Homo sapiens: one gene and its partner. The gene in region 1 interacts genetically with each later gene. Each region holds a gene or a part of one and is shown on either strand. Other genes may lie near its edges.

Region 1 (5,190 bases):
TTGTGTGGTAATATGACAGGTTAAGAATGACTTTTTAAATTGCTGTTAAGATATGAAATACATGATATAAAATGTGAACTGATATAATAGTAAGTAGAAAATACAGAAGGAGAAGCAGTAGAAAGCGAAGAAAAAGGAGAAACAAAGGAAGAACAGAAGAAATGTTTGCCAAATGGCCTGGTTGCAATAAAGGAAAGGTTAACCTCTTCAAGGTGAAAGAATTCTCATTTAAGAACTTAGGAATAAGGATTAAAAGAATTTCAAGCCAAGCAAAATACAACCTGCTTCCCCAAACTCCCCTTCTATGTGTTATAAACCTTTTTCTAAAACAAAAAACATTATTAATTATTACGCTGTAACAATGGAAATTTTATTGTAAACAAAGTTGGTAATGGCTGTATATAATTTCATCACAAATTACCTTGTTAGTGCACGGATTCAATTAGATTCTAGGTTAAATCATTTTTCCATTACACACTGATAAATATGGCATCTATCACATTCTTCCAGAAAAATCAAATAGCACATATAATCGCTGAATGACTGTTAACATTTAAGGTTATAAGAGGTATTTTGGAAATTAAGAACTTTGTAAACAGTCTTTCAAAGAGCTGAAATACAAAACAATCTATTTATCAATGGTGAGAAGTACTTTCTTCTTGATACTTCTCTGGAACTTTTAAAATCTTAAACAGACGAAAAACAATACATGTAATTTTATAAATGTTTTGACAGATTTGTTACCATCGCTATCTTTAGAAAATCTAATGTGACCAAACATTAGTCTGTCAAACCATGATATGAGTCTGGAAGAGCAAATAGTTTATTGTCTTTATTGGTATGCACTAACAAGATCTCTGCATTTACCATGAAAGCACTCTGAGTGCTAGCTAAGTAACCACATAAATTGATCCAAAAAAGCCTCAGTTGGGCTAGTCAATTAAGGAAAAAATGCATTTCATTAATACTGTTAACCAATGCTTACCAAGTGGAATGCTTTACTATCTGGTTTAACTTTATGTTTTTCCATATACTTGATAAGGCTGCAGTTGGTATACCTGAAAGAGAAATACTATGAAATAGCTATATTAGACTTGAGGTTAATTGTACATTGGCTAAAGTCCTTCTGATGAGAATTATTTTGATCATAACCGATATAAAATATATATTGAAAACACTATGAGCATAAAATGAGTAGAATTAAATCAGTTTTCTATTTCATTCAATATCCACAATGGTCACTTTTGAAAGGATACCGATGATTAAATGTAAGACAATTTCATGAATAACAGACACTAAACAGCTTTTTTTTTCACATGAATTATATTTTAACAATTATTTTAAATAACATCTGGGTCAAAAGTTTAATTCAGCCTTACCAATAAGTGTAAAATACTTTTGTCATAGGTATACAAACTAAACTCTCCCAATCCCTGGCTTTGCATTGTAAACAGGTGAAATATCCATTCTTCTCTGTTAAAACCTGCTTAAAATTACTGTAACCTAGATTGGTGAGCAAGTGGCTATTACCAAAGTTTATTTATTTAGATTCTTATTTATTCAGCTGTGATACTTCTCACTAATGTCTAGCTTCCAAAAAGTAGTCAATATGGAAAGACATGAATTTGTTTTATATCCAAATCAGCTGCTAATATTAGTCACTTTTGTATATAATCATTTAAGCATCTTAAGAAATAAAGACTGTCATCATGAAAAATATTTATTAGAGTAAATAAGTAAAATTATTTATTAGAGTAATCTTATATTGAGTATTTTATTATGTTGAATATTCAGTCTTACACTGAGTATTCTGGTAAAGCAAAAATCAACAAGGAGTCTCTTTTTTTCCAACTTACGTATTTCTTCTGAAATCTTTCATTAATGTTGAATGTTCAGGCATCTTTTTTATATCTTCCCAATCTTTATCTGTGAAATACATTGATAAATTTTTATGTTGCCTAAGTTCCTATTCTTGAGAATTTTTAAAAAGGTTATTACCACGTTCATTACATTTCCTATCCGTTCAACCTCCACACAAAAAAGCTGTCTTCAAATAAATGTTCAGCAACAGTAAATATCTTGAAGTGTAAACATAATTCCTTATCCCTTATATAACTTTATATATCTGTTTATATTTTAAATTTTAAACTGCAAACTTTCTGTATGTTTTACTATAAGCTGCCTCAATTTCTGTCACTAGAGAAGAATAAGTTATACATATTTCTATTTATCTTATTAAATGTCCTCTTTCTATTAGTAAAACTGCTTATTTCCCCTTTTCTACCAAATTTCTTGGTTAAGTCAGCAATCAATTTCTTCAATGAGAAATCTAAGATCTTCCCCTCAGTGGCTTTAAACTATACTTCTTTTTATGATACAGCCCTCCTTTCACCTTGTTAAATATATTTCTTTACATAAGCAATCAATGGAAGAAGGGGTAATAACTATTTGCACAATAGGGTAGGATATAATTAGTATATTAATAAGTGGGCTGGTACCTTGGCTAGTCTGGTTAACATTACCCAAAACAACCCCAGCTCCTAAATACGTTAAGTACAAAACGTTTCAGCTACTTTTGCTGGCATCCAAGTTGCTCAAACAATACATGCTACATAATGTGTTCTCTCCAATATCTGCCAATGGGTTTTCCTGAGAGTCTACTAGGTGCAAAGGACTGTCACAGGCAGCTTAACAGCACCTTTAGCTCTTTTTTTTTTTTTTTTGAGACGGAGTTTCGCTCTTGTTAACAGCCCAGGCCGGAGTGCAATGGTGCGATCTCGGCTCACCCCAACCTCTGCCTCCCAGGTTCAAGTGATTCCCCTGCCTCAGCCTCCAGAGTAGCTGGGATTACAGGCATGTAATCCCATGCCTGTAATACATTACAGGCATGTAGCCACCATGCCCAGCTAATTTTGTATTTTTGGTAGAGACGGGGTTTCTCCATGTTGTTCAGGCTGGTCTCAAACTCCCAACCTCAGGTGATCCGCCCACCGCGGCCTCGCAAAACCTTTAGCTTTTAAATGGCCTTTAGAGGCTTGCTTTTCTTTGAACTTACTTGTAAAAATATTTGGTAACTATCCTCCAAAGACATCACATATTGTAAACTAAACATACACTACACTCCTAAATGGAATTTTCTCCTTAACTATTTTCCTTGCTCCAATTTCTGTGTTTTATCAATTTCTCATGCTAGAAATTTTAAGATAATCTTTAGTTTTCCCTTGCTTATACACTTCCTATAAAACATTTCCATCTGCCCTTTTTTCTCCATCCTTATCTTCACTCTACTTTCTGTCTGCAGCACTGCTACAGCTGGTTTCTGATTTCAGTTAGCTCTTTTTAACAGATTTTTACCTACCACCATCTTACTAAATCTTTCTAAAATGCAACATAAAGCATGTCTCTAGTACTCAAGAACTGATGGATTCTCATTCTTTAGCTATCAAATCTAACCTCTGCTGCCTGCTTTCCAAGCTTCCTTATAAACCACCCTAACCTCTGAACCACATATTAAGAGTCACTGATAGACATCTTCACCACATCTACTCCCTCACAGAAGCTATGCCTTTCCCGTGGGCTCAGAAATGGTGGACACATTCAGAAGCAGGAAGAAAACAGAATTCTTCTGTCTCTACTCAAAACCATACCTACTTTTTAAACATTCTACATATAGCAGTACAATGCAAACTCCAAGGGGGCAAAAATCATGTCTGTTACATCATCAATAACTTTTTACTTAAGACAGTGCCTGGCACATGGCAGGTACTCAATAAATATTTACTGAATAAATAAAATTCCCATCACAACAGAAGTCTTCTCCACACTGGTGACCAATTTTGGAGAAAGGCAGTATCTGTGTAGTTATTCTGCATTTACTGATAATTAACACCCTTACAAGGGAATGTAGAATTAAAAGTCCCAGGTATTATCTCTATTAGTCTTGAGTTTATAGTGACCTGAGAAATATTCCTAATAAGAAACACTTTCTACTAAGTACTTGACTAGCCAAAATTTAGGTGTTTTAAACAAATTCTCATTATTCTGGACCTCTGAGCAGTTTTTGGTGATTACCGTTCTGTAATATAACTAGGGATTGAGATACAGTTGGAGAGATCTAATACCAGGGATAGGATACATGTAAACCATCTCTCTGTTGCAAAACAGCAGGCTAACTCACCATAGGGTACTATGACTCTCACCCACATTGTGACTGTTCTAAGAGAAGACTTAAATGCTATTATTCAATATAATGTGATTCTGTATAGTGCCCTAAATAGAAATAAGGTTCAAAATTTATATTTGAATGCCAAATAGTGGCAGTATTATATGTGCTGCCAGAAAAAAATTCCTACTACTGAATTCATTTATAGTTTCTACTGGTAAGAGCTAAAGGTACCTTTTTAATACAGATATTGAACATATTTTATCATTTCAAATACCAAATAACAAAACAAAAAAGTAAAACAAGATGAAACAAAAATACAGTCCTGAAATTCAGGAAACCCATAAATATTTCCATGCCAATATGTAAACTCTACAAATTTTGCTGTTTCTACGGATCTTTGATAAATGCAAGTCAAAAAACAAAGACTCAAGTAAAAGTAGCTTCCATCAGCTAAAAATATATACCTCTCCAACGAAGACATCTAAGTTCAAACAACAGTGATTTAAAAACAAAAACAAAAACGAATAATGTGTACCTGCAGGAAATCCCATTACATTGAATATTCTGTCCAGCTGGTCATGGTGATAAGGATTACTAGTTTTGATGTCCTCTTGTCGACAGTGAAATATTGGTTCTGACGTTAGTAGTTCTGCAAATATACACCCTATAGCCCAAATATCTTTAAAACAAAAAGAAAAAAAAAAAGAAAGAAAAATAGGCAAGGAAAAAAGAAAAAGAAAGGTGCAAAATAAAGTGGTTCTTTCCAAAAGAAAATGCAATTTTATTTTCTTGGGGAGTGTTTTTTTCTTTCTTTCCCTAATAACTCATATTAATTCCTAAGCAATTATAATTACTAAATACCATGAAACATTATTATAAGTATATATTCCCATGCCCTCCACCCCGATTTTTCATTCTGTATACCTCCATACCACCCAAATGGTTTCACTCTAAGCCCAATTAAATGTACTGGCTGGATTTTGGTGAGTTTTCAATGTCCAGGTGATACCTTTTCTGTGAACTAC
Region 2 (5,190 bases), on another chromosome or scaffold:
CATCTATACCTAAGGACCAATAATATCTTTCCACAAGGCGTGTTGTAGAGGGTTTCACAAAGAGCTAATGGAAAATGAAAGTCTAGGCTGGGCGCAGTGGCTCACACCTGTATTCCCAGCACTTTGGGAGGCTGAGGCAGGCGGATCACCTAAGGTCAGGAGTTCAAGACCAGCCTGGCCAACGTGGTGAAACCCCATCTCTACTAAAAATACAAAACTTAGCCCGGTGTGGTGGCGCACACCTGTAATCCCAGCTACTCGGGAGGCGAGATTGAAGAGAGCCAAGATTGCACCATTGCACTCCAGCTTAGGTGACAAGAGTGAAATGCCATCTCAAAAAAAAAAAAAAAAGAAAAGAAAAGAAAATGAAAGTCTATCGTTCACTCTCAAGTCCAGAGTGTTAGTCTATCATAAACATTAGATTCCTTCCTCTTGCAAGGGTTTTATCCTTTTGCCCATCTCCACCCTGCCCGGGGTCCAGCCTGGAGTAGGCCCCACAAAAGGCAACCACCCTCCCAAGGTGCTGTACCCACCACTGCTGTCTCTATGTGTGCTGGACAGATCCCCGGCACCACCTCAGCACTGGTGCGGAACTGGAAGCGCCCCTCAGACCAGCTGGGGGACCTGGAGCAGGGCCTGAGTGGAGAGCCCCAGCCCCGGGCCCGCGCCTTCCTGGCTGAAGTGAAGCAGATGCGTGCACGGAGGAAGACAGCCAAGATGCTGATGGTGGTGCTGCTGGTCTTCGCCCTCTGCTACCTGCCCATCAGCGTCCTCAATGTCCTTAAGAGGTGAGAGCACGGGGTATGGTTGGGGTGGGGAGAAGTTTGAGGTTGGGGAAGGAGCTCTCCTTGCTTGGGAGAAAGACCTGGCTCCACCCCTTCTCCACTATGTGATCTTGGGCAGGCCATTTCTCTTCTCTGAGCCTCCATCTCCTAGGGCTATCGTGAAAATTCACGCATTCATTCACTTAATCATCACATTTTAGGGGGCTGGAAATACAATGAACAAGTGCATAAGACAGACAAAGTCCCTGCCTTCATGGAGGCTGCATTCTAGCAGGAGAGAAGGGAAGTAAATAGAAGAATCAATGTATATTATAATGTCAGGCAGTGATAACTGCTGGGAAGAAAAATAAAATAGGACAGAGAGTGACAATGATAAGGGTTGGTGGGTTTTTGCTTTTGCTTTAGATACAATGGTTTAAAAAAAGCAGGGGGCCGGGTGCAGTGGCTCACATCTGTAATCCCAACACGTTGGGAGGCCAAGGAGGGAGGATCGCTTGAGGCCAGGAGTTCAAGATCAGCCCGGGCAACATAATGAGACTTCGTCTCTACTAAAATTCAAAAAATTAGCCAGCCATGGTGGCATGTGCCTGTAGTTCTAGCTACACAGACTGAGGTGGAAGAATAGCTTGAGCCCAGGAGGTTGAGGCTGCAGCGAACCATGATTGCACCACTGCACTCCAGCCTGGGTGACACAGCTGTCTCAAAAAAAAAAAAAAAAAAAAAAAGCCTTTCCAAGGAAATGACATTTGAGCAGAGACTTGAAGGAAGTGAGAGAGCTAACCATGCACGTGTCTGTAGGGACAGCCAAAGAGGGTCGCAGGGCGCTGGGGAGAGAATGCAGGCTATTGGACAGAAGACAGTTTCACTTTGAGATTGTGCTTGGCCACTTCCTGGTTGTGTGATCTTCGGCATGTCACTTTACTTCTCTGAGCCTCAGTTTCCTTAATGGAAAAATGGATGATGTCTATGATTCATCATGTTGCTGTGAGGATGGATGAGAAAGTGGATGGGAAGCCCCAGGGGATCCGATGGCCAGGAGGCTAGAGATGCCCATCACGGTGCTTGATACCCTCCATGCTTGAGAACCCCAAACCCTGGCCAAGACCTCAGGTACAGAAGGCCAGGAAACGTGGACAGAAGTGGGCAGTAGGAACTCTTGCACTTTACAGCTCAGGTTCTGTGAGCAGCACTCCCCCAGTACATGCATACGCAGCTACCCCATTTCTGACGCTCCTCCACCCTGGGCCTAGGGTGTTCGGGATGTTCCGCCAAGCCAGTGACCGCGAAGCTGTCTACGCCTGCTTCACCTTCTCCCACTGGCTGGTGTACGCCAACAGCGCTGCCAACCCCATCATCTACAACTTCCTCAGTGGTGAGCAGGCTGGGGATGCAAAATGACTGAGGGTGGCCAACAGTCCACATGACAAGTCTCCCCATCCCCAAGCCAGGGCCCAAATAAAGGATGGTGGGTGAGGATGTACCTGCTGTGGGCACAGTGATCCTGCTCTGGGAGGACCCACCCCAAGCGGCCCTGGCCTGAGTGGGAGACGGGCCACACTCCCTACAGTGGCTGGCACCCAGGATCCAGTTTTGCAGATTCTGCAGACCAGTGAGTGAGTGGAAGGGCAGGGGCTAGGCCAGCTCACCCCCAACTCCCACCCTGGGTGCAGGCACAGCAAGACCTCCAATCAGCTCAGGCAGAGGAGTCCATCCTCCCCGGAGGGAGTCAGACCTGTGGGAGGAGGGCCCTGGAGCCCCTGCCCGAGGAAGGATTGCACAGTCCAGGTGTCAGGGCTAAAGTAGGGTCACTCTGAGAGACAAGCCAGGCCCAGGGAAGGGCTTCGCCGGCTCAGCTAGACACACTGGCAGAGTGACCGGAATCTCAGGGGTTGTCCCCTCTGGAAGTCTTCCTCCCCTGCCACCCCCACTCCCACTCCAGGCCTCTCCTCTCTGCTGTCCCACAGTGCCCACCCCCTCCCTCTACCTCCCAGTCTCAGGGTGGTAATGGCTCTGAGGCTGAGCTCAGCAGAAGTCTGACTCACCAGCCCTCTGACTTTGGGAATAGACTTCTAAAGAACAGGTCCAGATGACTGTTGAAGCCTGGACAGAAATAATCTTTGAGGAACTATTAAAAGGTTAAAGAAAGGATCAGGAGTCAATAGTATAACCCTCATTGAGACTCAAGAATTACTCAACAAGGCTGGCTGCGGGTTTCCAGGTCAGAAAAGAGAATAGATGATGAGCTGTGTGGGGAGGGGAGGGCAGACAGACTTACTGACACATATGCCTTTGTTTGGCCTATGTTTACTGAGCACCTACTATGTGCTTGACCCTGTGCTGGGCACCAGAGAGGCTGGCAGCCTAATGACACATGATCAAAGGGGCTTCAGCCTGACAAAATCTGTTTCCCTGGTATACTTGGGCTGAATAATGTGGTGTGGTGGTCCCTCCTTCCCTCCTCCCCCTTGAGAAGGGCTTTGGAATTAGAATTGGGTTCAGCTTCTGGCTGGGTGGACTTGGGCAAGCCACTGTACCTCTGTGCATCTCATCTGTGAAGTGAGGATAAAGGACTCCAGCCTTTCAGGGTGCTGGGATGCTCTGGCGGACAGAGGCTGAGGCGCCCAGCACAGCGTGACTGCCAAATGCAAAAGGGCTGCTGCTGCCGTCATTTTCATCATCAAAGGGCAGAGAGGACACAAGCCTCGCAACAGATAGTGACCCCCACGTACACACCAAGGAGAGCAGAGGTGACCTGAGGCCCCCGAGCCAGACACCACGTTTTGAGTCAGCCTCCGAGCCAGAGCACAGTCAAGGAATCAGATGGCAATTGCGTCTCTCCTTGGGAACCCGCTCCAGGGCTTCTGTCCTCTCTCTCTGGCGGTGCCGAGGTTGCCTCAGGGCTCTCCCTCCCAGCTCTATCCCTCCCTCCCTCCCCGCCCCCTCATAGGCAGCTTGGCTGGAGCTGCGTGGGTGTCCCTGGGCTCAAGGCCCCTTCCTGCTGCATCTGTCTCCTTATGGCTGTGTCTTTTGTCTCCCAACCAAGGCAAATTCCGGGAGCAGTTTAAGGCTGCCTTCTCCTGCTGCCTGCCTGGCCTGGGTCCCTGCGGCTCTCTGAAGGCCCCTAGTCCCCGCTCCTCTGCCAGCCACAAGTCCTTGTCCTTGCAGAGCCGATGCTCCATCTCCAAAATCTCTGAGCATGTGGTGCTCACCAGCGTCACCACAGTGCTGCCCTGAGCGAGGGCTGCCCTGGAGGCTCCGGCTCGGGGGATCTGCCCCTACCCCTCATGGAAAGACAGCTGGATGTGGTGAAAGGCTGTGGCTTCAGTCCTGGGTTTCTGCCTGTGTGACTCTGGATAAGTCACTTCCTCTGTCTGAGCTTGTGTCCCCTAAGCAGGGTTGATGTGAGGATTAAGCATGCTGAAGCAAGTGGAAAGCTCCTTGTAAACTGTGAAGTGTTGTGGACATGATTATTGTTGTACTTCTCTCATTTGGCCATACCCCACAGTATAATCTGTCCCCATCCTCCTTCCAGAGCTTGGTCATCCTCCTAAAGACCCCTTTCCTACCCAATTACAGGCCTTCCCTGGAGTCTGCTCTAAAGGTCCCAACAGGCATTTCCATCTTGTTCCATGGCTCCCTGAAGCCCAGGGCTGCACTTGGCCAGCTGTTCTGATGCCTGTGTGAACTAATCTGGGCCCAGCCTTTCTCCAGCGGGCCACGAGCACAGCCCCACCCTAACCAGGTGCCAAGGGCACACACCACAGACCCGACCTTGTTGGCTTTGTGGTGTGATAAAACACTCTCCATGGCCACTTGGCAGAGAGGCCAGCAGCCCGAAGCAACTGTAATTAAAAGCCTGGCACTGAATGTTCCCTTTCCTTGTCATTGCACAAAATCTGTGCTGCTTAGGTTAGGAGCAGAAGAAGGTGGGGAAGCTGGGGGGAGGGAAGACAAGAAGGCACTAGAATGCTCTTATCTGCTGACCTCCCACCCCCACCACACGGGATCCCAGATGGACTCAGCCAGGCCTCGGCACACGTGGTGCTGCCTCCTCATGCGGTGCCAATCCTGTGACGCCGGGACCTCACCCCTCGACACAACTGTCTGCTCACAGGCCCAGTGGCCTGGGGAAGGTAAGGGGGGCCGGGTGGGCAGATAGCGGGTTAACAGGCTGATTTACTGTTATCTTCATCTTCTTGGAAACCAAGGCTTGCGCCTATTTTCTATGAACTCACAGGATAAAAAGAGAAAGCCACAGACTTGGCCAGACATGCTCCGTCTGCCACCGAGATTTTAAGGCTGCCAAAGGCCCTGAGCCTTGTTGCCAGAGAAGGACGTGGAGTGCAGCCTGAAGTGCTACTCTGCTGAGAGGAACAGGGACATCTGGCAGGGGCCAGCTCTGCTA

What was found.
Region 2: changes in CDK8 (region 1) and HCRTR1 together harm fitness less than expected from each alone (positive genetic interaction), as found in Homo sapiens cells (one large-scale study listed by BioGRID).

Annotation. Positions count from the first base shown.
Region 1 is NC_000013.11:26,393,021-26,398,210, reverse strand, and holds part of CDK8 (cyclin-dependent kinase 8), read right to left. Parts: intron 4,845-5,190; coding exon 4,701-4,844; intron 1,927-4,700; coding exon 1,857-1,926; intron 1,059-1,856; coding exon 986-1,058; intron 1-985.
Region 2 is NC_000001.11:31,622,962-31,628,151, forward strand, and holds the end of HCRTR1 (orexin/Hypocretin receptor type 1), read left to right. Parts: intron 1-561; coding exon 562-788; intron 789-2,035; coding exon 2,036-2,157; intron 2,158-3,828; coding exon 3,829-4,019; 3' UTR 4,020-4,652; downstream 4,653-5,190. UniProt on the Homo sapiens protein: Moderately selective excitatory receptor for orexin-A and, with a lower affinity, for orexin-B neuropeptide. Triggers an increase in cytoplasmic Ca(2+) levels in response to orexin-A binding.